Homo sapiens: one gene and its partners. The protein of the gene in region 1 interacts with the protein of each later gene in a biochemical or structural test. Each region holds a gene or a part of one and is shown in the gene's direction. Other genes may lie near its edges. The genes, in order: CDKN1A, PSMA3, GADD45A and DTL.

Region 1 (7,655 bases):
TCCCGAGTAGCTGGGACTACAGGTGCTGCCATCATGCCCGGCTAATTTTTTTTTGTATTTTTAGTAGAGACGGGGTTTCACCGTGTTAGCCAGGATGGTCTCAATCTCCTGACCTCGTGCTCCGCCCTCCTCGGCCTCCCAAAGTGCTGGGATTACAGGTGTGAGACACTGCACCCAACCACCCAGCTAATTTTTATTTATTTTTATTTTTAGTAGAGACAGGGTCTCAGCTAGTTGCCCAGGCTAGTCTTGGACCCTTGGGCTCAAATGATTCTCCCACCTCTGCCTCCCAGAGTATTAGGATTACAGGCATAAGCCACTGCCCCTGGCCTCCCCAAGTGATTGTGATGGGCCTCTCTGGTTAAGAAACCTCAAAATTAGAGAGGGAGTGGGGTTCAATACTACAGCACAGGACTCAGGGCAAACAGGCCTGGGTTCAGATCCTGGCTGTGCCACTTATGAACTGTGTGATGTTAGGCAAGTTACTTAACTTATCTGAGCCTTGGTTGCCTCTTCTGTAAAAAGGGAGCTAATAGATATCCACTTTTTAGGAGGATTGATATTTTTAAACTGCTTAGAACAGCCCCCAAACATAAAAATATATAAATAAATCCCAACTCATGCCTAGCAGAGGGTGGATAGAGGTTATTTGAGGGCTCTGTCCACTGTACTGGGTGACCCCTTTATGGGGCAGTGGCCTTTGGCCTTTTTAGCTGTATGACTCAGGGGCAAGTCTCATATCTCTTCCATCTCCTGCCCTTTAAACTTGGTGTGAAGTTACCAAGAGCCTCCTCTCCCAACCAGCTGGGACGTGAAACTGTGGGCTCCACTGATCACAAGCAGTGGGGTGAGGTGGGGTGGAGCAGATGTGGCATGTGTCCCGGGCTTCCTGCCTCATGAGGACTCAGCAGAGCTTTCACCCCCAGAAACTGCAAGTTGGGACTTGTCCCTAGGAAAATCCAGTTGCTGCCAAGGTCGTGCAGTCACTCAGCCCTGGAGTCAAGCCAGAGCAGGCAGGTAGGTGCCAGGGCTCCCTCATGGGCAAACTCACTCTCCGTTTTCCCTCTCCTGAAGGGGGAGGAGAGGAGCCAGGTAGACCAGCCACCTTTAATTTTCTTTTTGCCTGCAAAACGGTTTCCTTGGACACAGGCAACACGAGGCAGGGGCTGCCAGGTGTCTAGACTTCAGATCACCTGATGTGCCTGGCAGGATGTGGCTCAGCCTGGGAGAAATCATCCCTTGCGCTGCCCCGCCCGGCCCCTCCTTACCCCTAGGCCACCCGCCTGACGACATCCTTGGGAAAGGCCCTCAGCCTACAGCACCTGTCAGCTGCTGTCTGAAGGAGGTAGTTGGCAGGGGGAAGTGATAGGGGGGAGGCTCAGTAAAACTGAAGGCAGAGAGGAATAATCATACTTCTGTTTTCAATGCACTTCTCTATACGAAGTGCTGCTGGCACGTTACCTACATTAACTCAGTTAATTCTCATGTCTATCCTCTGAGACAGTCACTATTACTATCCCCATTTTATAGATGAGGAAACTAGAGCTCAGACAAGTTAAGTTGCTTGCCCAGGGTCACCTAGTAAAACCTGGACTCCAGCCCAGGTGATCTGGCTCCAGAGCCCTCCTGCTTAACCACCAGGATACAGCCTTTCATTCAGCTCTGTTCTGTCTGCCTTGCTGCATGGACTCTGTGATCAATTTCTTGAGTATGTGTCTGTAGCCATGCTCTTTAAACTTGTACATGGCCCCATTTATGGATGAGGAAACTGAGACCTAGAGACATTAAGTGGCTTTTTAAAGCTTACGTAGTAACTGGCAGAGCTAGGACCACAACCCGGGTGCTTTTTGCCCCAAAGTCCCGGGTACTTTTACTTGGCAGAGCAGGGTTACCCTACTTGGGGATCTGGGTCGGGGGACTTAGGAGGCTGGAGGAACTGTCAGACTGTTTCTTCTTTTGGGAATTGACCTTCTGGCCAGGGCTGCGATTAGGAAACTGCTGGACTCTGGCAATTCACACATATTTGGGGGGCATTCACACCCATGAGGGACACCTCTGGGGGGAAAACAAATTGATTTTAGCTGATAATACCTGGTGGCAAACAGGACCCTGGTCCTTGCTCTTGCAATAGACTTGCCTTTGTTGACATTAGCTTGCCCTTCAGTTGCCTGCTCTCCCAGTGACCTTGGTGTGCCAGGCTGGCTGAGCTCTGCTGGTGGGGGTCAGGCCTCCTGTGGGAAGGAAGCAGGAAGACCAGCTGGAAGGAGTGAGAGAGACCCTCTGGTAGGAAGACGTCACCTGAGGTGACACAGCAAAGCCCGGCCAGGTAACATAGTGTCTAATCTCCGCCGTGACCAGGGCCTTCCTTGTATCTCTGCTGCAGGCGCCATGTCAGAACCGGCTGGGGATGTCCGTCAGAACCCATGCGGCAGCAAGGCCTGCCGCCGCCTCTTCGGCCCAGTGGACAGCGAGCAGCTGAGCCGCGACTGTGATGCGCTAATGGCGGGCTGCATCCAGGAGGCCCGTGAGCGATGGAACTTCGACTTTGTCACCGAGACACCACTGGAGGGTGACTTCGCCTGGGAGCGTGTGCGGGGCCTTGGCCTGCCCAAGCTCTACCTTCCCACGGGGCCCCGGCGAGGCCGGGATGAGTTGGGAGGAGGCAGGCGGCCTGGCACCTCACCTGCTCTGCTGCAGGGGACAGCAGAGGAAGACCATGTGGACCTGTCACTGTCTTGTACCCTTGTGCCTCGCTCAGGGGAGCAGGCTGAAGGGTCCCCAGGTGGACCTGGAGACTCTCAGGGTCGAAAACGGCGGCAGACCAGCATGACAGGTGCGGACATGTGCACGGAAGGACTTTGTAAGGGACCAGGATTCTCAGAATCCATGGTCCAAGGGCTGACCTGTCTGGTCCTGGTCCAGCATGCTCCAGGTAGAAGGAAACAGGCCCAGAGAGGGGAAGCAACCTCCCTGAGGTCACACAGCAAGTAGGCAGCAAAGACCAACTAGCTAACATTTATTGGGAATGTTCATTATGCCAGGCCCTTTGCCAAGCTTCTAAGGTAGATTTATTTAGTCCTTATAGCAATGTTATAACATAAGACATTCTTGTCACCCTGCCCGCCTTTCTTTTTGAGACAGGTGTCTTAACTCTGTTGGCCAGACTGGAGTGCAGTGATACGATCATGGCTCACTGCAGCTTCAAACTCCTGGGCTCAAGCGATCTTCCTACCTCAGCCTCCTGGGTAGCTGGGAAGCTGGGACTATAGTTGTACACCACTACGCCCGGTTAATTTTTTGAGTTTTTGTAGAGACAAGGTCTCACCATGTTGCCCGGGCTGGTCTTGAACTCCTGAGCTCAAGCAGTCCTCCTGCCTCAGCCTCCCAAAGTGTTGTGATTACAGGCGTGAGCCACCATGCCCAGCCCCTTGCCATCCTTTTAGGGCAAGGAAACCAGGCTCAGAGAGGTAGAGTGATTTATCTAAGGTCTCAAAGTGAATTTGCCGTTGGGTCAAGACTAATTATAATAACAACAACTACTGACGTTTATATGGGCCCGGCATTGTGCTGAACACTTTCATGGATTTTGTAACAGAATCCCTAGATCAGCACTGTCCAGTAACTCTGCAGGGATGGGAGTGTCCGGTACAGGGGCCACGAGCCACATACGGCTGTTGTGCATTTGACACACAGCTCATGTGACTGAGGAACTGAATTGTTCATTTTATTTGATTGTAGTCTGTTTAAACAAGCACACAGAGCTAGTAGTGGTTCCTCTGCTGGGCAGCTTGACTTAGAGCAGACCCATGGGTGCGGGTGCGGTGATGGATAAAATCACATCTGTGAAGCATGGTGGGACACTCCATAATACCCCTCAAGAGACAGAGTGGACGTTCCCCGAGTTCTTCCTGTTCTCAGCAGTCGGCCCCATTGGCCCCAGGGAAGGGTGTCCTGGCCCCCCACTGTCTTCCTCAGTTGGGCAGCTCCGCCGCGTCCTCTTCTTCTTGGCCTGGCTGACTTCTGCTGTCTCTCCTCAGATTTCTACCACTCCAAACGCCGGCTGATCTTCTCCAAGAGGAAGCCCTAATCCGCCCACAGGAAGCCTGCAGTCCTGGAAGCGCGAGGGCCTCAAAGGCCCGCTCTACATCTTCTGCCTTAGTCTCAGTTTGTGTGTCTTAATTATTATTTGTGTTTTAATTTAAACACCTCCTCATGTACATACCCTGGCCGCCCCCTGCCCCCCAGCCTCTGGCATTAGAATTATTTAAACAAAAACTAGGCGGTTGAATGAGAGGTTCCTAAGAGTGCTGGGCATTTTTATTTTATGAAATACTATTTAAAGCCTCCTCATCCCGTGTTCTCCTTTTCCTCTCTCCCGGAGGTTGGGTGGGCCGGCTTCATGCCAGCTACTTCCTCCTCCCCACTTGTCCGCTGGGTGGTACCCTCTGGAGGGGTGTGGCTCCTTCCCATCGCTGTCACAGGCGGTTATGAAATTCACCCCCTTTCCTGGACACTCAGACCTGAATTCTTTTTCATTTGAGAAGTAAACAGATGGCACTTTGAAGGGGCCTCACCGAGTGGGGGCATCATCAAAAACTTTGGAGTCCCCTCACCTCCTCTAAGGTTGGGCAGGGTGACCCTGAAGTGAGCACAGCCTAGGGCTGAGCTGGGGACCTGGTACCCTCCTGGCTCTTGATACCCCCCTCTGTCTTGTGAAGGCAGGGGGAAGGTGGGGTCCTGGAGCAGACCACCCCGCCTGCCCTCATGGCCCCTCTGACCTGCACTGGGGAGCCCGTCTCAGTGTTGAGCCTTTTCCCTCTTTGGCTCCCCTGTACCTTTTGAGGAGCCCCAGCTACCCTTTTTCTCCAGCTGGGCTCTGCAATTCCCCTCTGCTGCTGTCCCTCCCCCTTGTCCTTTCCCTTCAGTACCCTCTCAGCTCCAGGTGGCTCTGAGGTGCCTGTCCCACCCCCACCCCCAGCTCAATGGACTGGAAGGGGAAGGGACACACAAGAAGAAGGGCACCCTAGTTCTACCTCAGGCAGCTCAAGCAGCGACCGCCCCCTCCTCTAGCTGTGGGGGTGAGGGTCCCATGTGGTGGCACAGGCCCCCTTGAGTGGGGTTATCTCTGTGTTAGGGGTATATGATGGGGGAGTAGATCTTTCTAGGAGGGAGACACTGGCCCCTCAAATCGTCCAGCGACCTTCCTCATCCACCCCATCCCTCCCCAGTTCATTGCACTTTGATTAGCAGCGGAACAAGGAGTCAGACATTTTAAGATGGTGGCAGTAGAGGCTATGGACAGGGCATGCCACGTGGGCTCATATGGGGCTGGGAGTAGTTGTCTTTCCTGGCACTAACGTTGAGCCCCTGGAGGCACTGAAGTGCTTAGTGTACTTGGAGTATTGGGGTCTGACCCCAAACACCTTCCAGCTCCTGTAACATACTGGCCTGGACTGTTTTCTCTCGGCTCCCCATGTGTCCTGGTTCCCGTTTCTCCACCTAGACTGTAAACCTCTCGAGGGCAGGGACCACACCCTGTACTGTTCTGTGTCTTTCACAGCTCCTCCCACAATGCTGAATATACAGCAGGTGCTCAATAAATGATTCTTAGTGACTTTACTTGTAATATTACTATTGTGGTTATTATACCTTATAAGAACAAATAAATGGGCTTTTGGGAAGGATTTCATAATTAAATAATTTTAAAAATTAAGCATTTAAATTTAGAGAATGCAGAAAACTTAGCAAACAGAAAGACTGCTGCAAAAAACAACAGCAAAACAAAAACTACTGTCACACCTCTGCAAAGATCACCAATGTCAATATTTTGGTTTGTTGTGTAATCTTTTTGTAAAGAATATATTATAGCTTAACATCATTATTCATCAGATAAATGCAAATTAAGATACCACAATAAGATACCACCATACACTTACCAGAATGATTAAAAAAGACTGACAGTGCCAAGCATTGGCAAGGTTATGGAGCAACTGGATCTCTTATTTAAAAAAACTGTTTGGGCCGGGCGCAGTGGCTCACACCTAGAATCCCAGTGCTTCGGGAGGCTGAGGCAGGAGATCACTTGAGGCCAAGGGTTCAAGACCAGCCTGGCCAACATGGTGAAATCTCTACTAAAAATACAAAAATTAGCTGGGCATGGTGGTGCACGCTTGTAATCCCAGCTACTTGGAAGGCTGAGGTGGGAGGATCACTTGAACCCAGGAGGCAGAGGTTGCAGTCAGCTGAGATCATACCACTGTACTCCAGCCTCTTCCAGGGTGACAGTGAGATTCATCTCAAATAAATACATAAATAAAAAACTGTTTGGTAATATCTTCTAAAGATGCCTACCTTCATGGCTACCTCATGACCCAGTAATTCTATTCCTGGACATGTTCTCGAGAGAAATGAGTTCATATTTCCACTGAAAAAGGCATAAGAATGTTCTACACAGTGGCTCACACCTATAATCCCAGCACTTTGGGAGGCTAAGGCAGGAGGACGGCTTGAGCCCAAGAGTGTGAGACCAGTTTGGGCAACATAGCGAGACTCTTATCTCTACAAAAAAAAAAAAAAAAAAAATAGCCAGGCGTGGTGGAGCGTGCCTGTAGTCCCAGCTACCTGGGAGGCTGAGGTGGGAGGATCACTTGAGGAGCTTGGGAAGTCGAGGCTGCAGTGAGCCCTGACTGCACCACTGCACTCCAGCCTGGGCAACAGAGTGAGACCTTGTCTGTCTCCCTCAAAAAGAAAAAAACCAAAAGAATGCTTCCAGCAGCATTATTATTAACAGACCCAAGCTAGAAATAACTGAAATGTCCATAACAGAATAGATATGCAAATTGTGGTATATTTATATAGTGGAAAGTTATCCAACATTACAAAAAACAAGGTGCTGTTGCATGCATCTTCTGGTTGTCTATTCATAATTAACCACCCCAAGACTGAGTGGCTTAAAACAATAATCATTTATTTGCTCCCAACACTGCAATTTGGCCCAGAACTACTTTTCAAATGTGGAATAATTCTCTACTGCACAGGGCAGAGCTTTCTACTAGAATCATAGAGTTCTGAAACGAGACTCTCCCCGCCAGAGGGGACTTCCAGGGACTTCACAACTGTCTACTTATCCACAGATAAAAGTCCAGGACCAGGGAATACACTGGGGCGTGTGACCCAAGTGCTTGTCCCATAGCCTGCACCTGTTTCAGAGCCCTCTCTTGCTCCGGCCGCTGCTTAAACATGGCAGCTTACTAAATCATCCAATAAATGGGCTGGAGTGATCTTTAGTACACTGCCTCTGAAACCCAAATTAAAAAGTGGTAAGAGGGGGGTGGGGGCCTGGGGGAGGGATAGCATTAGGAGAAATACCTAATGTAAATGATGAGTTGATGGGTGCAGCAAACCAACATGGCACATGTATACCTATGTATCAAACCTGCACATTGTGCTCATGTACCCTAGAACTTAAAGTATAATTTAAAAAAAAGAAAAAAAAATGGTAAGAGGTGCAAGATATACTAAGTTGTCCTTTACCACAGAGGGAATGACCCAGCATGCCCCAGTTTATTTGACCACTTAAAACTTTAATGATTTGATAGATCTCTAAATTGTTGTAGGGAAAGTGGATGTGAACCACTTTTGATCCCCTTTCCTGA
Region 2 (8,536 bases), on another chromosome or scaffold:
CAAGAGTGATAATAGTACTTGGCACATACAGTTGTTGTGAGGTTAAAAATTATTATGCAAAATGCTTAACATGTAATGAGTGCTCAGTATCTCTTAGTAATTATCATTATTACTATTACTGGGTAGCGTAGGAAAAAAAGGCTATTAAAGATTGTGATACCACTTTTAAATTCTGTAACTGTCCTGGGCTAGAGGGTTTCAAAAACTTGGTTGGTTTATGGTACCTTAAGTGTCTCAGTAGTTTTTCTCATGGCTTCCCTAGGCCGAAAATACCTAATGGTTTCATTTATTAAGTATTTAGATCCAAAGAACTTAGTGTTTACATCCTAAAAACTTAGTAGCCGTTTTTTTTTTTTAAATACACACATAGTGAAAAATATTTTTATTTAAAAATTAAAATGTTTTATTTTAAGCAACCAAAATTTCTAGTATATACACTGCACAACCTCCCAAATTTGGATGTGGCCACTGTCATTTCCTGTTCCACACTGATTTTTGCACAGTACTTACTTTTTTTCACAGCAACCACTAACAGCCAAGCTTCTCAAAGATGTGGTGGCATTGAAAGGAATGTAGTAAAACGATCTAATGTTCAAACGGAACTACTTGGACATTTTTCTCCAAACTTAGAATGTGCCACACTAGGCCAGGTGCAGTGGCTCACACCTGTAATCCCAGCACTTTCGGAGGCCAAGGCGGGCGGATCACCTGAGGTCGAAAGTTCAAGACCAGCCTGACCAACATGGAGAAACCCTGTCTCTACTAAAAACACAAAAATTAGCCGGGCGTGGTGGCGCATGCCTGTACTCCCAGCTACTCGGGAGGCTGAGGCAGGAGAATCCCTTGAACCTGGGAGGTGGAGGTTGCGGTGAGCCGCGATTGCACCACTGTGCTCTAGCCTGGGCAACAAGAGCAAAACTCCATCTCAAAAAAAAAGATATGCCACACTAACATGTGATTTCACTGCAGTGCCTGAGGACCTCTCGGCACATACATAGTAACTGCAATTCTGTTTTTGTTTTTGTTTTTGTTTTGAGACAAAGTCTCATTCTGTTGCTCAGGCTGGAGTGTAGTGGCGTGATCTCGGCTCACTGCAGCCTCCGCCTCCCGAGTTCAAGTGATTCTTGTGGCTCAGCCTTGGGAGTAGGTAGGATTATAGGTGCCCGCCACCAAACCTGACTAATTTTTGTATTTTTAGTAGGGGTTTCACCATGTTGTCCAGGCTGGTTTCAAACTCCTGACCTCAGGTGATCCCCCTGCCTCGGCCTCCCAAAGTGCTGGGATCACAGGCATGAGCCACCGTGCCCGGCCTAGTAACTGCAGTTCTAAGCCGCAAATCTTGAAAGAGGAATGGTTTATCATTGTAGTTTATTCAGCCAATAGGCTGAAAAAAGATTTGCGATTGTGCCTTTTAGAACAAAACAGTTACAGGTTGAGTATCTCTCGTCTAAAATGCTTGGGACCAGCAGTATATCGGATATTTTTCGATTTTGGAATATCTGCATTATATACTCATCAGCTGAGCATCCTTAATCTGAAAATTCAAAATCCAAAAAGCTCTACTGAGCATTTCCTTTTTTTTTTTTTTTTGAGATGGAGTCTCGCTCTGTTGCCCAGGATGGAGTGCAGTGGCGCGATCTCGGCTCACTGCAACTTCCGCCTCCCAGGTTCAAGCAATTCTCTGCCTCGGCCTCCCAAGTAACTGGGATTACAGGTGCCTGCAACCACGCCTGGCTAATTTTTGTATTTTTAGTAGAGACGGCATTTCACCATCTTGGCCAGGCTGGTCTTGAACTCGTGACCTTGTGATCCACCTGCCTCAGCCTCCCAAAGTGCTGGGATTACAGGTGTGAGCCACCAGGTCCGGCCTGAGCATTTCCTTTGAGTGTCATGTTGGCACTCAAAAAGTTTCAGATTCTGAAGCGTTTTAAATTTCAGATTTTTGGATTAGATATCCTCAACCTGTAATAACTTTAGAGAAAAGAACAAATTTGGGCCGGGCACGGCGGCTCACACCCATAATCCCAACATTTTGGGAGGCTGAGGCAGGCTGATCACCTGAGGTCAGGAGTTCAAGACCAGCCTGGCCAACATGACAAAACCAAACCCTGTCTCTACTAAAAATATAAAAATTAGCCAATCCCAGCTACTGGGGAGGCTGAGGCAGGAGAATCCCTTGAACCTGAGAGGCAAAGGTTGAAGTGAGCCCAGATGGTGCCATTGTGCTCCAGCCTAGGTGACACAGTGAGACTCTGTCTCAAAAAAAAAAAAAAAAAAAAATCTGACCAAGACCCATGGTTTTTATTCGTTATAATGAGGTAGTGGTAGTAAATCAGGGGAAGAGGATTTATGATAGAAGTAGTCCTGAATATTGGCCGGGCACGGTGGCTCACGCCTGTAATCCCAGCACTTTAGGAGGCTGAGGCAGGCAGATCACGAGGTCAGGAGATCAAGACCGTCCTGGCTGACATGGTGAAACCCCATCTCTACTAAAAATACAAAAAAATTAGCCGGGCGTGGTGGCAGGCGCCTGTAGTCCCAGCTACTCAGGAGGCTGAGGCAGGAGAATGGCATGAACCCAGGAGGCAGAGTGTGAAGTGAGCGGAGATCATGCCACTGTACTCCAGCCCTGGTGACAGAGCGAGACCCCGTATCAAAAAAAAAAAAGGAAATGTCCTGAATATGAACATTGGACAAAGCAATGAAGTTATACTTACTAAATTTCTAAATTATAATTTCATACTCAAGCATCAAAATGCCTTGTAGAGAGACCTTTAAGCCAAAAAAGTTTATTTTGAATGGTAATACTTGTTAAAAAAATGTTTAATAAGTCTTTATTAATTGCAGACTTTGATTTGTGATAGGAATGTGTTCCTCTAGTAAATTGGTGCTTTTTTTTCAGGCAGTAGCAGGTTTGTTGGCAGATGCTCGTTCTTTAGCAGACATAGCAAGAGAAGAAGCTTCCAACTTCAGATCTAACTTTGGCTACAACATTCCACTAAAAGTAAGTTGATAACATATTGAGGAACCTTTTGGACAGTAATAGAAGTTTATTAATAAGCTCTTCTGCTTCCCTCCATAGCATCTTGCAGACAGAGTGGCCATGTATGTGCATGCATATACACTCTACAGTGCTGTTAGACCTTTTGGCTGCAGGTAAGAAATTTTGTGAATTATTCAAAAGGCAGATCTGTACTATAGATATTTATTATGTTCCCCAGCATCTTAGCCTTTTACATACTTAAAAATAGAAACTCGTCGATAAGTATTAGGGCAATGATTAAATAAAACAGTGTACATAGAAACTACTTGAGGCTGGGTGCCATGGCTCAAGCCTGTAATCCCAGTACTTTGGGAGGTTGAGGTGGGAGGATCCCTCGCGCCCAGGAGTATGAGACCAGCCTGGCCAACGCAGTGAGAACCTATCTCTACAAAAAAAATTTAAAATTTAGCCAGGTGCAGTATCACATGCCTGTAGTCACAGCTACTTAGGAGCTGCTTGAGAGGATCATTTGAGCCCAGGAGTTGAAGGCTGGAATGAGCTGTGGCCATACCACTGTACTCTAGCTGGCGCAATAGAGACTCTGCCTCTTTAAAAAAAAAAAAAAAAAAAAAAAAAAGGTTTCAATAGTGAAAAGGACTATATAGATCTGAAGTGATTATAAAACAAGGAACTGATAACAATGACTTTAATCTGATTATAATAAGCTCTCGGTGTTAGTCCCTGATATTCTTAGGTAATTTTAAAAATTACGTCTCACAATTCCCATTAGGCACGGTTTCTCTTTCTGTTGAAGTGCTGATATTTTATTGTGGGGTAAAGTGGAGATTCAGCTGCATAAAGACCTGGAATAGGTATAAATATTCAAATTTGGCTTCACAGAGAAGACTTGTGACTAGATTTTTCTAAAATGAAAAGACATGTTTGGCTTATGACTTAAAACAGTCAAACATGTTTGGTCAAAATAATACATATACTAACATCTGAGTGCTCAGCTGTAGTCCTACCTTTGAGTTGTTTATCATCAGTCATATTTAATTACTAAGATATTAAAGAAAACTTGAGTTTTATTCTATTGGTAATATTACATTAGGGTTTTGTTTTTACTTTTTGAGACAGTTACTGTCACCTGAGCTGGAGTGCAGTGGTGCCATCATGGCTGACTGCAGCTTTGACCTGGCTCAAGCGATGCTCCTACCTCAGCCTCCCAAGTAGCTGGGACCACAGGCATGGGCCACCATGCCTGGCTAATTAACAAAATTTTTTTTTGTAGAGACGGGGTCTCACCATGCTGCCCAGGCTGACATTAGTCATTCTTAAGCTTCTCAGTTAAATTACATTATGAAACACTTTGTTTTCAGACCATGTAAAATACCTTTCAACTGAGCTCTGAGTTCATCAGTTAACTTCTCTACTCTTTTTAAGGGAGTAAGAATAGTAGAGATAACTTTTTTTCATAACTTTTTTTTTGTTTGTTTTGTTTTGTTTTGAGATGGAGTCTCGCTCTGTCGCCCAGGCTGGAATGCAGTGGCACGATCTCAGGTCACTGCAACCTCTGCCTCCCGGGTTCAAGCTATTCTCCTGCCTCAACCTCCTGAGTAGCAGGGATTACAAGCACCTGCCACCACGCCCGGCTAATTTTTTTATTTTTAGTACAGTCAGGGTTTCGCCATGTTGGCCAGGCTGGTCTCAAACTCCTGACCTCAAGTGATCCACCTCAGCCTCCCAAAGTGCTGGGATTACAGGCGTGAGCCACCGCACTGGGCCAGAGAGAACTTTTTTAGTAAACATCTATTGGGCACTGAGTTAGTCATAAATGTGGAGACACAGGTGTGAAGTCACATTGATAAAATATTAGTGATATGATAAAGGGACAACAATTAGGGAACGGACTCTTTCTGGACAGGAGGCAAGGAAGAGTGTGAGATGTAGGGAGACTTGGTAGTTGCAAGCACAGGAACTGGTATGAAAATACGTGCGCCAGAGAGAGTTAAGTATGCTTGGTGTGTAGAGTATGAGGTTTAGAGATGATACTGATGTAGGAAGGGGTCCAGTCATATAAAAGTCTGTGCTCCATGCTGATTTTCTTCAAAGAAATGTTGAAAGGCTTTAAAATAGTGACAATGAGCTATATATCCTGAAGGATAAGTCTCATATCGGTAGAAAATGGAAGGAAATGACGGTAGGGATGGGAATTGAATAGTTAAAATATTCCGCATATAAGATGATGTGTAAGATGCTGCTGATTTCTTTTCTACTCTAAGGCAAATATAGTTGTCCCTTGGTATTTGTGGGGGATTGGTTTTAGGACCTCCCATGAATACCAAAATCCAAGGTTGCTGAAGTCCCTGATATAAAATGGTTAAGTATTTGCATATAACCTGTGCATATCCTCCTGTATGTTGTCATCTCTAGATTACTTGCAATACCTAACACAGTGTAAATAGCTGTTACACTGTATTGTTTAGGGAATAATGACAAGAAAATCACAGTTGTTCAGTACAGAAGCAATGTTTTTTGAAAGTTTTCTATCTGTGGTTTGTTGAATCCACAGATGCAGAACTCATGGAAACAGTGCCCACTGTATGTCACAATTTCAGAAAATCAGTATTTCATACAATCAGCTAATAGCCTAATTTGTTGAGCACAGAAAAATACACTGAACCAATTCTGATTATTGCAGAGAAATGATTGGCAGGATATTGGGAAATAGAATGAAGGGTGGAAAGAATTTCACATGGATTCAGTATACTCTCCGTCAGGAATTTTGTTCCCTTGATCTTTTTGTGTTTATGCCTTATTTATTGGGCCCTCTCATAGTTGTGGTTTTCATCTATCGTTACTCCTTTCCCTGTACTGCTAGACTTTCCAGGAGACCTTCATCAGAAAGATTAATACTAAACAAACAAAAGCTACATGAATTTTGAATAATCTCATGTAATAGTTTTAATTAATTGAAACCACTGTTTCAAAGTACTTACTGAGTTATATGTGTATTAGTAATTTATCTCAGAAAGAAAATATAACTGCATTTTAAAATAATTTTTTCACAAATACTTTTATGTTATTGCCATGGTTTAAGCTGTTTGTATACTTTCATGCAGTTTCATGTTAGGGTCTTACAGTGTGAATGACGGTGCGCAACTCTACATGATTGACCCATCAGGTGTTTCATACGTGAGTAATTTTGAATCATTTGAAATTCTATTTTAGTTTAATGGTATTTCATTAGCATTTAAGTCTCATTATAAGATTATATGAAATTAAAAAAAAACTCATTCAAGGAAAGTAATTTTTCTTTTTTTTTTTTTTACAACAACCTCTTGTCCAACAGAATTTTTTTTTTTTTCCTTTTTGGGGGAACAGGGTCTCACTGTGGCCCAGGCTGGAGCACAGTGGTGTGATCACAGCTCACTGCAACCTCTGCCTCCCAGGTTCAAACAGTTCTTCTGCCTCAGCCTCCCGGGTAGCTGGGATTACAGGTGTGCACCACCTGGCTAATTTTTTTTATTTTTAGTAGAAACAGGCCTTTGCCATGTTGGCCAGACTGGTCTTGAATTCCAGTCCTCAAGAGATCTACCCACCTGGGTCTCCCAAAGTGCGAGTATTACAGGTGTGAGCCACCAGGCCCAGCCATGTTTTCTTATCATTAATAACTGATACGAGGCAGAGGAAAGATTTTTTTTCAGTATGTTATTTATAGAAACTGTATAGTGCATATAGTATTTTGAATATGTGATTTTCCTTTATTACTATAAACACTGTCTTAAAACTGTATTTAATGTCTTTTTTCCTCATTCTTGCCCAGGCTGGAGTGCAGTGACACAATCATAGCTCACTTCAGCCTCTCAACTCCTGGGCTCAGGCGATCCTCCTACCTAAGCCTCCCAAGTAGCTGGGACTACAGGCTCATGCCACCATGCCTAGCTAATTTTTGTATTTTTTTGGTGTCTATAGAGACAAGGTCTTTCCACGTTCCCAGGGCTGGTCTCAAACTCCTGGCCTTAAGCAGTCCTCCTGCCTTGGACTCCCAAAATGCTGGGACTACAGGCGTGAGCATCGATGTCCAGCCATGTCATCCCTTTTATTTTATTTATTTATAAGATGGAGTGTCACTCTGTCTCCCAGGCTGGAGTGCAGTGGCTCGATCTTGGTTCACTGCAACCTCTTCCGCCTCCTAGGTTCAAGCAATTCTCCTGTCTCAGCCTCCTGATTAGCTGGGATTACAGGCATGTACTACCATGCCTGGTTAATTTTTGTATTTTTAGTACAGATGGGGTTTTGCCATGTTGGCCAGCTGGTCTCCAACTCCTGACCTCAGGTGGTCTGCCCACCCCGGCCTGCCAAAGTGCAAGGATTACAGGCGTGAGCCACAGTGCCGGACCTAATTTTGTTTCAGACAGCGTCTCGCTCTGTCACCCAGACTGGAGTGCAGTGGCGCCAAACCTCCACCTCCCCAGTTCAAGCAATTCTGCCTCAGCCTCCCGAGTAGGCTGGGATTAGAAGCATGCATCACCACACCCGGCTAATTTTTGTATTTTCAGTAGAGACGAGGTTTCACCATGTTAGCCAGGCTGGTCTCGAACTCCTGATCTCAAGTAATCCGCCCACCTTGGTCTCCCAAAATGCTGGGATTATAGGTGTGAGCCACCTTGCCCTGCCTTCCCTTTTAAAGAGAAGGTTTAAATGTGATTTCTAAGAGCTTTCCCTAAATTATTACCATTTTTTTTTTTTTTTGAGACAGAGTCTTGCTCAGTTGCCCAGGCTGGACTGCAGTGGTGCAATCTTGGCTCACTGTAACCTCTGCCTCCCGGATTCAAGGGATTCTTGTGCCTCAGCCTCTCAAGTAGCTGGGATTACAGGCCTGTACCATCACACCTGGCTAATTTTTGTATTTTTAGTAGAGACAGACTTTCACCATGTTGCCCAGGCTGGTCTGGAACTCCTGGCCTCAAGTGATCCACGTGCCTCAGATTCCCAAAGTGCTGGGATTACAAGCACTTTGTGTGAGCCACTGCACCCGGCCTGTTACCGTTTCTTAACTGTTTTCTTATCCTTACATTTTTGTCGTTTTTACTAATTGAAGAAAATGAAGATTCTTAAATATATTTTGCTGTAACAGAAGTATATATGTGTACATCCTTTTTTTTTTTTTTTTTGATGGAGTCTCACTCTGTTGCCCAGGCTGGAGTGCAGTGGCGCGGTCTCAGCTCACTGCAACCTCTGCCTCCCAGATTCAAGCGATTCTCCTGCCTCAGCCTCTGGAGTAGCTGGCATTACAGGCACCTGCCACCACACCTAGCTAATTTTTTTGTATTTTTAGTAGAGACAGGGTTTTACAATGTTGGCCAGGCCGGTCTCCAACTCCTGACCTGAGGTGATCTGCCCACCTTGGCCTTCCATAGTGCTGGGATTACAGGCATGACCCACCACACCCAGCTGTGCATCCTTATCTTTAAAAAAATTTACAAAATAATAAAATTGGGGGTTTAGAGTACTGAACTCATAGGAATTAACTTTATTTCTGTCTCTCAG
Region 3 (8,861 bases), on another chromosome or scaffold:
CTGGAGGTGAAGGGAGGAAAGGCAAAAGCAGAGGGAGACCAGTTGTTACATTTTCCTAGGTGGGAGATGATGCTGGTGGTAGTGGTGATGAGAAATGGTTGAATTATTTTACATTTTGAAATGGAGCCTATAGGATTTACTGATGGACTGGATGTGGTTGTGAGAAAAAGGAATCAAGAATGACACCAAGGTGTGGGGGGCTGAACAGTGGGAAGAATGGAGTTGCCATTGACCTATTGTAGGCACAGATTTGGCCAGACAATCAGGAGAGCAACAATTGTCATTTTAAGTTTAAGATGCTTACTATATATTGATGCAGATATGATGAATAAGCGCTGAGGTTCAGAAGAGATGACTGACCAGGTTTGAAATATATTTGGGAGTCATCAGCATATAAATAATTAAGGCCATGGGACCATATGAGGTCACCAAGAGAGTGAGTACAGAGAAGAGGTATAAGCATGAGCTGTTAAGAAGTTAGGAAGAAGAAAACTTTGCAATGAAGTTGATGGGTGAATAGAATTGTTTCTTTTATTTCAGAGAGAGAAAACTCACAAATTGGCTGGGCGCAGTGGCTCACACCTGTAATCCCAGCACTTTGCGAGGCCAAGGTGGGAGGACTGCTTAAGCCCAGGCGTTTGAGACCAGCCTGGGCAACAAAGCAAGACCCCGTTTCTTTGGAAAATTTTAAAATTAGGCTGGTGTGATGGCATGTGCCTATAGTCCCAGGTACTCAGGAGGCTGAGGTAGGAAGATCGCTTGAGCCTGGGAGTTCAAGACTGCAGTGAGCTATGACAGTGCCACTGCACTCTAGTCTGGATGACAGAGGATGACCCTGTCTCAAAAAAGAAAAAAAAAAAAGCAAACTCACAAATCTGTTCAAGGTGCAAAAACAACCTACCAGTGGCCAATCACCAACTCAGACCACCTACTTCCCTCACCAGTGATTAGGCTACAAAGCAGAGACTCTCAGAACATTCCTCCCATGATAGAAGCCTTCTGATACGCACCGACAGAGAGGTGAGGGGTTAGGGGGTGTTGATCTTGAAGAATGTTCTAGTTAGTCTCTTCATCTGACTTCTCCACTGGCTGGGCCTTGCTTGGCTGGTGAAATGTGAGCAGCTGATGGCAGCACAAGGTGGCCAGCCCAAAGCTCAAATTAACACTATGATTACTACCATGATTCTTAATAGCTGAAGAGAATTTCCACAGGATAAGGATTTATTGAACACACAAAAAAGATGGCATTAAGAATATTATACTAGTTTTTTGTTGTTGTTTTTGTTTTTGTTTTGAGACGGAGTTTCAATCTTGTCACCCAGGCTGGAGTGCAATGGCACCATCTCGGCTCACTGCAACCTCCACCTCCAGATTCAAGTGATTCTCCTGCCTCAGCCTCCCGAGTAGCTAAGATTACAGGTGCCTGCCACCGCGCCTGGCTAATTTTTGTATTTTTAGTAGAGCTGGGGTTTCACCATGTTAGCCAGGCTGGTCTCAAACTCCTTAGCCAGGCTGGTCTCAAGCTCCTGACCTCAGGTGATCCACCCGCCTTGGCCTCCCAAAGTGCTGGGATTACAGGTGTGAGCCACCACACCTGGCCCCAACTAATTTTTGTATTTTTAGTAGAGGTGGGGTTTTACCATGTTGGCCAGGCTGGTTTTGAACTCCTGACCTCAGGTGATCCGACCTCCTCAGCCTCTCAAAGTGCTGGGATTACAGGCGTGAGCTACTGCACCTGACCAGGAACCTTATGATTTTTAACAAGAAAAAATAATACAATACAATTCTAGGTAGGTGGAAAATACATCCATCATAGTTGAACTGATCTTCTCCTTTGATGTGGACAATGATCTAATACTGAAATAACAAGCATTATATTTCTTTCAGATGTTAAAGCATTGATTGTTTTTTGAAAGAAAGAAAGAATAATTCTGCATTATGGAACCAGTAGTAGGAATGTATGTAGGATAAGCATGACTAAAATATCAAAAAGATCTTTAATATGCAAAGCAAGTAGCAGTGCTAAAATAATTGAACAATTCTTGAGTATATATTTCCATATGATTTCTAAATATAATCATTTGGTATCTTTACAAACATTACTACAAGAGCATTCTACTCCTGTGTACTTGGCAGTTGTCAGAGTTACCTGTAGTGGTTTTTAAAATGACATCACATATTGGAGTTATCACACTGATTATAAAGAAATATATATATATATATAATATTGATATAGGAAAATTTCTCTGATTTACCATTGACTATCAATGTCCTCCAGGACTAATAAACAGTTAATGATAAATCAACTATGTCCATTCTAATGTGTAACTACAATCTAACTGTGTAGCTAAATGCAGTTTTTACTTCCAGTCATGAGGCCCAACTTTGAAGATAATCACTGAGAAAACATTCTAGGTATACTCAGCAATCAGGCAAAATGATGTAACGTATCTGAGTCAGAAAGTATGACAAATGAATATTTTTGCATACTGGAAGCCCAAGCTTATCTCAGAGAAAATCCCCAAAATACTTGGGCAAATAACTTTCTGATGAAGTCAAATATAGCATGCAGTATAATTTTTGAGTGGAGGACTAAGCCTATAATAAGAAGTAACCATTTGATATCACATTTTTACTGGATATAGTCGACTTGGGTGGGGCACTTTAGGACTGTGGTTCATTTGAATTGGTGTAAACAATACACCGGTTCTACTGTCCTACAGCCTCCATTCAGATGACTGAAGTCATGGGACTTTCAGCATAGCTAGCTGATGACAGTGCATACTATTTTGTCCCAAAATCCAGTTCAAGCATGGACATACCAATAAGAGCCTAAGCTCTTTAAAGGCAAAGGACCAGGAATTGTACAGTTCTTGGTATAGAAGAAGACAGGCAAAAGTGTTTTTGAACTAACGTTAAATGTGCAATATGTTAGAATTCATGCAATGCACAGGACTGCAGGATTCTGATATCTTATTTAACTCTCAAATTCTATTCAACTCAATAAACCTTGACTGTGCTTCTACTAAATGCAGGTATTGTACTAGGAGCTGAGGACACCAAACTGATGAAGTCCTTGCTGTCAAGAAACTCACATGATTCCCTAATTCTTTGTCAGCTTGCTGTGATCACATTTTCTTCCCAAGAACCTCTAAGAAATGCCTAGTGGATAGAACCTTGGAGTTCCACGGAACATATTAACAATCGCCAAATGATGACTCAGGCTAGATTGTGTAATTCAGGTTTTGTCTGCAAAACTGAAAATGCTTCGGTAACCTACCTAAATTTCAATGTTGAGGAATTCTTTAAGAAAGACATCAAATGTTAAGATTTAAGGCATAGATATGAGATACATAGTCATGCTTAGGTGAATTATGCACTGACCATGACCATTTCTTTACTCAAATGTTGTCCATGGCTGACAACACAGTGAAAAAATGAGTGCAAAATGACAACTCAAATAAATGAACCAGAAAACCTATCACTTTTCTTTTCCACCAAATTAAGATCAAGAGAGCTGGAGAATATTTTGTCTAGAGTGATAAAAACATAAGGGTGCAAAACTTCCAGGTACCTTTGCAGAAATTACTTCTGTGACCTTTGGCTGTACAGCAACCTTAATAATGCAAGCACTGTTTTGAATGCAAGCATGTGGGAGCCATTTTCACCACTTTTGATGACTTCAGTAGGTTTAAGAAATGTTTTTGCTTTTATTGCATAAACCATAAAACAAAGGAAGGGACTTTTGAACTACTCAGTGAGAGTCTATATATTAAAGTTTGTTTTTCAAAAATGTGTAACTACCATTTGCAGTTTTAAAGGTCTGCTTTCCACCTACAAGTTGCCATTATCTCAAAGGTGAAATTTTAGCATATGACTAAAAACTTCCTATAGTTACAGCTTCATGATTCAGCATCTAACATCAATAATTCACAGTGAGATCATAGGAGGCTCTCTGTGGAAGGTAACGACATACATACGTTAGGAAAGGAAGCTTAGGGCATATCGAGAGCATTTTGAATTTAGACTTGTGGGCTGTGTGGGTGTCAGATGGTTGTCTCTCAGCTGGTGGGCGTCCAGAAGGATCCTTGTTTGGGCAAGGCTCTTTGAGAAAGGAGAATCTGGGTTGCCAGGGATTCCCACATGTGGTCACCAGCTCCCCACGCAGACCAGCTCACGATTTCCCAGTTACACCGGGCAGGTGGGAAACCGTTCTGCTTTCTGTGGAAAAGATTCTAACTTGGTTCCCTGCCATCCCTGAATACAAACGGGTTGGTTTTTCTTTTTTCAGCTTCCAACCCTTGCAGCTTTCCAAAAATAAATCAAACCAGCCATCAGGGCACCGAAATAATACTACTGCTAATAAGCAGCTTCGCCTAGACTTAGATAAACAACACTTCTGAGGTAAACTTTGCCCCGGAGGTCTGGAGACACTTTTTTAATGTAACCTGCTTACTAATAATTACTAGACTTCAGTGCATTAACCCTGGAAATAGATTTTAATAGCCACCCCTTAAAACAAAAGACATGAAAAGATAATAAGAAAAAAGTGCCGCAACTATTATAGAAAAACACTTGGCAGCCTGCTTCAGCCCAAGCTGAGGCCACCTCTAGCCTCTGCTAAAGCCCCCCACTCCCAATGGTCCCCGCCAACCGGATAAGAGTGCGCGCGGGACCCGCCTTCCCCTCTCGGCACCGCCCCCGCCCCCGCCCCCTCGGCTCGCCTCCCGCGTGGCTCCTCCCTTTTCCGCTCCTCTCAACCTGACTCCAGGAGCTGGGGTCAAATTGCTGGAGCAGGCTGATTTGCATAGCCCAATGGCCAAGCTGCATGCAAATGAGGCGGAAGGTGGTTGGCTGAGGGTTGGCAGGATAACCCCGGAGAGCGGGGCCCTTTGTCCTCCAGTGGCTGGTAGGCAGTGGCTGGGAGGCAGCGGCCCAATTAGTGTCGTGCGGCCCGTGGCGAGGCGAGGTCCGGGGAGCGAGCGAGCAAGCAAGGCGGGAGGGGTGGCCGGAGCTGCGGCGGCTGGCACAGGAGGAGGAGCCCGGGCGGGCGAGGGGCGGCCGGAGAGCGCCAGGGCCTGAGCTGCCGGAGCGGCGCCTGTGAGTGAGTGCAGAAAGCAGGCGCCCGCGCGCTAGCCGTGGCAGGAGCAGCCCGCACGCCGCGCTCTCTCCCTGGGCGACCTGCAGTTTGCAATATGACTTTGGAGGAATTCTCGGCTGGAGAGCAGAAGACCGAAAGGTGAGTCGGCCTGCGGACTCTTCCGGCCCGAACTTCTCTTACCTACCCCGCGCTCCCCGGTGCAGCCGGGCTGTGGAAGGCTTGCAGGGGAGGAAGCTAAAAAGTTTGCACAGGGCAACTCCCGCCCTTGCTCCCTCGGGACTCTCCGTGGAGCTCCCACGGACTGAAAGAGCGTGCCCCCCAACCCGAACGAGCCCCGCCGGGGCCTTTGCAAAGGGCAGCAGTGGCCGTCGCTGCCCGTGCGGCTCCCGTGGCTGGCAGCCTGTGGCAGGGGCACTCTCGGGACTTCTCACGGGACGCCCGGTCCTTGGGCGTGCAGGGGTCATGGGGGGTGACGGGGCCGCGGGAGCGCCGGGTTTTCGTAGAGCCCAGGTGCGCGGTGGTGCTTGCATTCGAGAGGGAGGGGCGTGGTACCGGACGAGGGGGGCGGCGATGGCCCCGAGGGCACCGGGGCTGACGGGACCCCTCGCCCTTGCCCGCGTGTAGGATGGATAAGGTGGGGGATGCCCTGGAGGAAGTGCTCAGCAAAGCCCTGAGTCAGCGCACGATCACTGTCGGGGTGTACGAAGCGGCCAAGCTGCTCAACGTGTAAGTGGGGCCCTTGCGCGTCCCCCATGGCACCCCTTCCCGCCCCAGCCCGGGAGGTCGCCTTGGCTGGGCGCCCCTCGCCCGGCCGCGCCACTTCCTGTCGCTTTTCTGCCTGTCTCGGAAGGGAGGGGGCGAGCGGGCCGGGCGGCGACCCCCAGGGACCCGGGCAGTGGTTGAGGGCGCCCGCGCTTCTGCGCTCACTGGCCCCGCCCGCTGCCCCCAGCGACCCCGATAACGTGGTGTTGTGCCTGCTGGCGGCGGACGAGGACGACGACAGAGATGTGGCTCTGCAGATCCACTTCACCCTGATCCAGGCGTTTTGCTGCGAGAACGACATCAACATCCTGCGCGTCAGCAACCCGGGCCGGCTGGCGGAGCTCCTGCTCTTGGAGACCGACGCTGGCCCCGCGGCGAGCGAGGGCGCCGAGCAGCCCCCGGACCTGCACTGCGTGCTGGTGACGGTAAGGGACTGGGGGACTGCAGCCTGCAGGGTAGAGCCCCGGAAGGACGGGAGTCAGGGCTGGGTTGCCTGATTGTGGATCTGTGGTAGGTGGGGGTCAGGAGGGTGGCTGCCTTTGTCCGACTAGAGTGTGGCTGGACTTTCAGCCGAGATGTGCTAGTTTCATCACCAGGATTTTCTGTGGTACAGAACATGTCTAAGCATGCTGGGGACTGCCAGCAGCGGAAGAGATCCCTGTGAGTCAGCAGTCAGCCCAGCTACTCCCTACCTACATCTGCACTGCCTCCCGTGACTAATTCCTTTAGCAGGGCAGATTAGATAAAGCCAAATGAATTCCTGGCTCACCCCTCATTAAGGAGTCAGCTTCATTCTCTGCCAGTCAGAGCTAAAAATAGAAATTGTGTAGGAGACAAACCTTGTTAATTCCCTAGAAATACATTAAGAGGATAGAGTGGAATTTTTTTTCTCTGCAATCTTGCATTTTTTTAATGGCTCTTTTTTTTTTTCCTGATAAAAACCTTTGGTAGGTAGGGAAGTTATGTTTTCAGGGGTAAATGTGCTACTTTTGTCTTCTAAATTTTGCTCTTTTTTGACTGGTCTAGTCAAGTGACAGCCCGATTATTTTGCTACTCCTTAAAAGTACTATTCTGTCTCTTGGAGTATGGTTGATGGCAATTCCAGTTAACTGCTGTGCAGCTCTCATCTCATTGTGCACACAGCATGGAAATCTTTCTCAAAACTGTTTCACTCAGGTCAGGGTAACAAGTTTGGTAGAGCAAACCGGTGAATGATACTCTCATGCAAAACTGAACAGATATGCAAACATATGTATGTGGTTCAGCTTGGGTTGCATGGGTTCAGACTTTGCAATGTGTAGTTTAATAGGTAATTACCCTTAACGCTTTTGCAGGGAACCCAACTACCTTGAAGAAACTTTAATTTTTTTGTGCTTCTAATTTGTCTCCATGTCACATAGCCAAAATATAGAATGTTCAAGTGTTTTCTCCTCAAAAGTATAATTACTAGAATATACTGGTTTTTAAAATAAGTTTATTTTTATAAATTTGTTTCCAGAATCCACATTCATCTCAATGGAAGGATCCTGCCTTAAGTCAACTTATTTGTTTTTGCCGGGAAAGTCGCTACATGGATCAATGGGTTCCAGTGATTAATCTCCCTGAACGGTGATGGCATCTGAATGAAAATAACTGAACCAAATTGCACTGAAGTTTTTGAAATACCTTTGTAGTTACTCAAGCAGTTACTCCCTACACTGATGCAAGGATTACAGAAACTGATGCCAAGGGGCTGAGTGAGTTCAACTACATGTTCTGGGGGCCCGGAGATAGATGACTTTGCAGATGGAAAGAGGTGAAAATGAAGAAGGAAGCTGTGTTGAAACAGAAAAATAAGTCAAAAGGAACAAAAATTACAAAGAACCATGCAGGAAGGAAAACTATGTATTAATTTAGAATGGTTGAGTTACATTAAAATAAACCAAATATGTTAAAGTTTAAGTGTGCAGCCATAGTTTGGGTATTTTTGGTTTATATGCCCTCAAGTAAAAGAAAAGCCGAAAGGGTTAATCATATTTGAAAACCATATTTTATTGTATTTTGATGAGATATTAAATTCTCAAAGTTTTATTATAAATTCTACTAAGTTATTTTATGACATGAAAAGTTATTTATGCTATAAATTTTTTGAAACACAATACCTACAATAAACTGGTATGAATAATTGCATCATTTCTTATTGTGTGCTCTTGTTTCTTTTAACTTGTACTTTATTAAACACATTTTACTGACGCTTTGCTGTATACCAGGTCTATAATCAGAAAGCAGGTGATTTAAAGGAGTTGGAGTTGTCAGGAAAAAGGGATGGTTAGAGATTCAGCTTGCAAAATTTGAATAATTAAAGATAAATGATATTAGCGCCGTAATAAGATTATACACAAAATGTTGAGGAGGCAGAGAGGACAGAGTGACTAAAGTTACCTACCAGTTTTTACTGAAGAGAGATCATTTTATGTTGGTCTTAGTGAGTTTTATTTCCCTAGTTACAGAGGGCAAAGGGATATTGCTAGCAGCTGCATTAGTTTGTGCAAAGGTGTGGAGGCCTGAAAGACCACAACCAGGTCAGTAAAAACAGAGTGATTGTGTGTGTGCCTCTGGTGTAGAAAGATAAGGGAGCAGCGGGGCTGAAAAGGAAGGTGGGGATTAGGCCCAGGCTGTGAAGGCATTCTGTGTTACCCTTATGCATTTGGGCTTCCTTCTGTAAACTTCAGGCAGATAGCGGAGCCCCTGAAGGAAGTGGCATGATCAGTGTTCTAGGAAAGTAACACCGGGGTCTGTGAAAGATGATTATTGGGATGAGCAGCTGTAGGTGACAAGGCCAGTTAGGAAGTGACTAAGAATCCAAGGTTGTGCATTTTGCAGAACCATTTTTACAGAGCAAACAGGGAAGTGGCCAGGCAAGGTTTTTTGCTGCCCCTAGTCTCTTCCTAAAGCTTTGTGCTTTCCAGCTGAACATTTCTATGGTTCTGAGGGGTCTGCTTAAATTCTATCAGATGGA
Region 4 (5,302 bases), on another chromosome or scaffold:
CTTACTCCCATTAAAATCCCTCCTGTCAGGGTCCATACTCCTCAGCCCTGTTGCCTGATTGACCAAAGCCTTCATCATGCTCCAGGATATCAATTCAAAAATATCTCCCCTCTCCTGTTAGACAGTATGCCATCCTCTTTTTATAGATAAAGCTGTTGTTCATGGGAAAGTTGCCAACATCCATAAGTAGATTTCCAGTTTGTAATTCCATTTTGTGATTATTTAAAATACAGTGAAACTTAGATACTTACAAAACAATTTGAGTGCAAAATCTTTCTAGATTTTTATGACTTCTCCACAATCTTTTATAATCATTTTGCCACACCACAGTAATACTTTTGACACCTATATCTATTCTTTTTAACATTCAGTGTAGTGTCACTTATCTTTTTAGGACTCATTTCATTGACTGACTTAATATTTAAATTAGATAATATCAGTCATCAGTGATTGATGGCAGAAATAGGTTTGTGAACCTTGAAAAACAAGATTCATTACAGTGGTGGAGGCAGAAGTAGCTGAGTGCATTGGGTGAGCTATGGGCACCAGTCAGAGAGAATAAAAAGCTTCTGTTGTTTGCATGTGAAGGGGAGATGGGTTAAGGAAGTTTCCACTGTACTTCACAGTAGCTCTTGTGGTGGCGGGATGATTGAAATAGAATCCAGAATCATGATCAGCATCATCTGCCATTTTAAAGGGCAGAAGCTAGATAACCAACCTTAGGCCAGTTTTAGTTTAAAAAGTGTTCATAACCCCGACCTGCTCTCATGAAGACCTATCCCATAATTTTAGAAAAATAAACTGATAGATTTTAAAGACAACTTAGTACACAAACTGCAATCAAGACCTTGCTGTAGAAAGTGGAGAAAAAAGACAGTTATAAGGAATCTTTCCTTCTCTCAAAATTATGACTGCTCTTTATCCCTAGCCAAAATTTCTATTTTTTTTTTCAAGGGAGCTGGTCTCAGCTATGTGTTAGCAGAAAAGTAGTTTCAATGAAAAACTATTTTCACTGATACATAAATCTTAAAATCTTTAAAAAGTAGAAACAGTGTGCTGGTCTTGTAATTTATTTGAAGCTAACATTTCTTAAAAATTTTTTACCTTTATATGATGATAATGTCAACCTTCAGAAGAGAGTAACATCTTCCATTTGAATACCTATCTTGTTTATAAATTGGGGGGGCTGATTTATTCATTTATTTCAAAAAGGATAGTAATTGTAACTTATTTGTTTCTTATTAGGAGACTTAGCTAGTAAATGTTTTCTATTCACATAAGAAGTCTATGCCTTCTTTCCCTACATATCATCTGTTAAGTTTTTACTATAGTCAGTACAAATCAGCCAAAAGAGACATTGCCATTGAAAGTATTTGGAGCTGAAAGCAGGCTAAACAATGAAATTTCTGGCAGCCTAATTTAAGGTATGCCTTAGTAATAACTTAGTAACAGTTGAACTTCAAGGAAATCTCTGAAATCTAAACTTTCTTCTTCTAGGTCACCATCACGCCCAGCTCCATGAGGAAAATCTGCACATACTTCCATAGAAAGTCCCAGGAGGACTTCTGTGGTCCTGAACACTCAACAGAATTATAGATTCTAATCTGAGTGAGTTACTGAGCTTTGGTCCACTAAAACAAGCTGAGCTTTGGTCCACTAAAACAAGATGAAAAATACAAGAGTGACTCTATAACTCTGGTCTTTAAGAAAGCTGCCTTTTCATTTTTAGACAAAATCTTTTCAACGCTGAAATGTACCTAATCTGGTTCTACTACCATAATGTATATGCAGCTTCCCGAGGATGAATGCTGTGTTTAAATTTCATAAAGTAAATTTGTCACTCTAGCATTTTGAATGAATAGTCTTCACTTTTTAAATTATTCATCTTCTCTATAATAATGACATCCCAGTTCATGGAGGCAAAAAACAAGTTTCTTGTTATCCTGAAACTTTCTATGCTCAGTGGAAAGTATCTGCCAGCCACAGCATGAGGCCTGTGAAGGCTGACTGAGAAATCCTCTGCTGAAGACCCCTGGTTCTGTTCTGCCTCCAACATGTATAATTTTATTTGAAATACATAATCTTTTCACTATGCTTTTGTGGGGTTTTTTTTAAGTATGTGTAAAAATGTGATGCTCAGATAAGTACATTTATATCAGTTCAGTGTTAAAATGCAGTCTCTTGAGTTAAAGTCATCTTTATTTTAAATGCAGTGATAAATGTCAACTCTTCGGAGAAACTAGGAGAACAACAACAGAAAGCTGTGTTTGTCTTTTTTCTCTCAAATATATCTCCCGTATGAGATTTCAGGTCCCCATGTTTTCACCAAGCAATCTGCTATGTCAGCCAACCCAACATCACTTTCTACAGGAGGTTATGATTTTTGCCATTTACTAGAGGAAGATGTTTTATGAAATCAATTTGGGGTTTGAATTCAGGTGCAGTCATCAGTTCTTTAGGGGCTGCAATGTTTTAAAAAAAATAAGTCATCAGATTTTAAGAAAAAAGTGATGATTTCTTATTGATATTTTTGTAACAGAATATAGCTCTTAACTGAAAATCCAGAACCAGAAACATAAATCTTGAGTTTCTTTTCATGTACATAAAAAGCAATAGCCTTTTAGTATAGATAGCCCTGAGCCAAAAAGTAATAGAATTTTCTCTAGATATTTAATACAGAGAGTGTATAGACTGACTCTAAGTTAATAATGTGCAAAATATCTTAAACATCCCTCCCCTTATTCAACAATTATGTATCAGTGATCTTGAACCATTGTTTTATATTTTTCACCTTTGTAACCTCATGGAAAGAGGCTTTACATACTTTCTATGTACTATTTACTTAGAAGGGAGCCCCCTTCCAGTCATGAAACTTCATTTGTTTTATCCATATCCCTGAGGACTGTGTAGACTTTATGTCAGTTTTTGTCATTATTTGAAAATCTATTCTGACAACTTTTTAATTCCTTTGATCTTATAAGTTAAAGCTGTAACAACTGAAATTGCATGGATCAAGTAAGCATAGTTTTATCCAGGGAGAAAAATAAAAGGAAGCCATAGAATTGCTCTGGTCAAAACCAAGCACACCATAGCCTTAACTGAATATTTAGGAAATCTGCCTAATCTGCTTATATTTGGTGTTTGTTTTTTGACTGTTGGGCTTTGGGAAGATGTTATTTATGACCAATATCTGCCAGTAACGCTGTTTATCTCACTTGCTTTGAAAGCCAATGGGGGAAAAAAATCCATGAAAAAAAAAAGATTGATAAAGTAGATGATTTTGTTTGTATCCCTACCCATCTCCTGGCAGCCCTACTGAGTGAAATTGGGATACATTTGGCTGTCAGAAATTATACCGAGTCTACTGGGTATAACATGTCTCACTTGGAAAGCTAGTACTTTTAAATGGGTGCCAAAGGTCAACTGTAATGAGATAATTATCCCTGCCTGTGTCCATGTCAGACTTTGAGCTGATCCTGAATAATAAAGCCTTTTACCTTATCTGATGTCCTTTTCTGAGCTTTTTGCATTACCTAGAAGCAGTCTACAAAAAAGAACTATAGTAGTCAAGAATCCCTTCTACTTGTTCATTAAAATGTTTATTCCCAAAGTTATAATCTATTTCAAGCTGAAAGAGCTTTTAATAAAAAACATCTTGCTTGGATCAGACTTTGAGCATTTAAGATGGCTTGGATTACTTGATAAAGCAGGGTGGAGTGATGTAGTTCTTTTTCTAAACAAGTATTTCCAGCACAAACTTTTCCATTTGAATACATTCCAAGCACTATTGCTAGGATCCCGTATTAGAGTTTGCTTTTGGCTGTTTCAACACGGGCCCTTAATTAAATTTTGTGAGGATGACTGATTAGTGTCTTCAAATGTCTCTTCATCTGGACTGCACATTTAACTGATGTTGGATCAAGACCATGTGTAGCTACTCTTGTGTTGAGGGTCAGCCCATTATCCCCATCCCCAGCCCTAACAGCTTAAAACAGCTTTAACTCCCATCTTGAAATTAGCCTATGGCCATGTTCATAACATAGGTAGTGTGTGGGTTCAACAAATGCTTTTTGAGAGCCTGTCATAGCCAACACACTACTGCTCTTAAGTCTGTTTTTCTGCTTTTCCTAGTCCCTAGTTCCTTTTACATTGCTCTTAAAGCAAAGGCCAAGTAGTCTAACAGAGAAAAATAAATTCCACAACTAAGATAGTGTGGGCAACATTTTACAAATGTGTGTCAGAAGACAGACTGAGTGAAAACATTGTACTAGAAAAACTGAGTTAATTTCCTCCCTATGGCAATTCAACACAAGTGGTTTCTGCTTCATAATTCCATAAAGGGCTAAATGTAGGCCCAGTTGAGCTCTTGCAGTAGATCTCATTGCTTCTCACACAGGTCTTCACAGGGAATTCTTTGCCTGCCCTAGGTTTGGATCATGCCACATTACCAATTAACCCATTACTCATAAAATTCTCAGGGATTATGGTAAAAAAATTGGATTATGCATCAGTTCTTTAGATATTGGTTGGAAGTTATAGGCAGGCTGAACACATTTTGTTGGACTTGAGTTAAGTTTAATGCTTTGATGCCTGGAATACGACCCCAGCTTGTTATAAGTTAACCATTTTGTTCCCTAAAGTGGTAGCAAAACCTGTTTTATTTCTGAGCTGTGTTTGAGTGCAAGCTAAAAAGTGTAGGGGTTGTTAAGAAATGATATAAGATAAATTCAGCCTTTAAAAAAGAAATCACCTGAGCATATTAAGCAGCTTGTTTATATTGGTATGCCTGCAGCAAGCATATACATCACAAATGAGAGATATTGTGTTATTAAAGAATAGGCTTACTTGATCCCCAAAGTTCATCCCTTGCTAAGCCAGGAAAGAGGATTTTTAGGGTATGCAACCAGGTTCTTCACTTTGAATGTAAAAGGTTTAATATTCCATTTGTACTCCATTTCTCTTTAATTTCCTTAACTTGCCACATGCCCCTTTGTTTTGACATTCTGAATAGTTTATATTCAAGCCATTTTGTGAAATATGAATAGCACATTTCAAAATGCCTTTGATTGGAAGGCGTTTAAGTCAGCCAACATTTACATATCACCTGGGTGCCAAGCCCTGTGTGTGAGGCACCTGGTCTGCAAAGAGTTCCTTTCTTTATTTTCAGTTGCCAAAGGAGTCACTTTAATACTTCAGTAGGCCAGAGTCAGCATTTGAGAGAAACAGCAAAGATCAGATTTCAAGTCCTTTGAGTAAAGTTGTTTGTAATCAGCTATTATGTAGCAAGTACTGTCTAGAAGCC

The links.
Region 2: the proteins of CDKN1A (region 1) and PSMA3 form a complex in vitro, tested with the Homo sapiens proteins (4 studies listed by BioGRID).
Region 3: the proteins of CDKN1A (region 1) and GADD45A form a complex in vitro, tested with the Homo sapiens proteins (3 studies listed by BioGRID).
Region 4: of the proteins of CDKN1A (region 1) and DTL, one has a biochemical effect on the other in vitro, tested with the Homo sapiens proteins (3 studies listed by BioGRID, with this or other methods).

What each region holds. Positions count from the first base shown.
Region 1 is NC_000006.12:36,681,714-36,689,368, forward strand, and holds the end of CDKN1A (cyclin-dependent kinase inhibitor 1), read left to right. Parts: intron 1-2,383; coding exon of another isoform or gene 2,384-2,388; coding exon 2,389-2,833; coding exon of another isoform or gene 2,834-2,932; intron 2,933-3,738; coding exon of another isoform or gene 3,739-3,797; exon of another isoform or gene 3,798-4,037; coding exon 4,038-4,087; 3' UTR 4,088-5,619; downstream 5,620-7,655. UniProt on the Homo sapiens protein: Plays an important role in controlling cell cycle progression and DNA damage-induced G2 arrest. Involved in p53/TP53 mediated inhibition of cellular proliferation in response to DNA damage.
Region 2 is NC_000014.9:58,254,843-58,263,378, forward strand, and holds part of PSMA3 (proteasome subunit alpha type-3), read left to right. Parts: intron 1-2,902; coding exon 2,903-3,004; intron 3,005-3,082; coding exon 3,083-3,156; intron 3,157-6,105; coding exon 6,106-6,178; intron 6,179-8,536. UniProt on the Homo sapiens protein: Component of the 20S core proteasome complex involved in the proteolytic degradation of most intracellular proteins. This complex plays numerous essential roles within the cell by associating with different regulatory particles.
Region 3 is NC_000001.11:67,680,300-67,689,160, forward strand, and holds GADD45A (growth arrest and DNA damage-inducible protein GADD45 alpha), read left to right. Parts: upstream 1-4,901; 5' UTR 4,902-5,195; coding exon 5,196-5,239; intron 5,240-5,725; coding exon 5,726-5,827; intron 5,828-6,050; coding exon 6,051-6,288; intron 6,289-7,361; coding exon 7,362-7,475; 3' UTR 7,476-8,035; downstream 8,036-8,861. UniProt on the Homo sapiens protein: In T-cells, functions as a regulator of p38 MAPKs by inhibiting p88 phosphorylation and activity.
Region 4 is NC_000001.11:212,101,345-212,106,646, forward strand, and holds the end of DTL (denticleless protein homolog), read left to right. Parts: intron 1-1,497; coding exon 1,498-1,596; 3' UTR 1,597-3,669; downstream 3,670-5,302. UniProt on the Homo sapiens protein: Substrate-specific adapter of a DCX (DDB1-CUL4-X-box) E3 ubiquitin-protein ligase complex required for cell cycle control, DNA damage response and translesion DNA synthesis.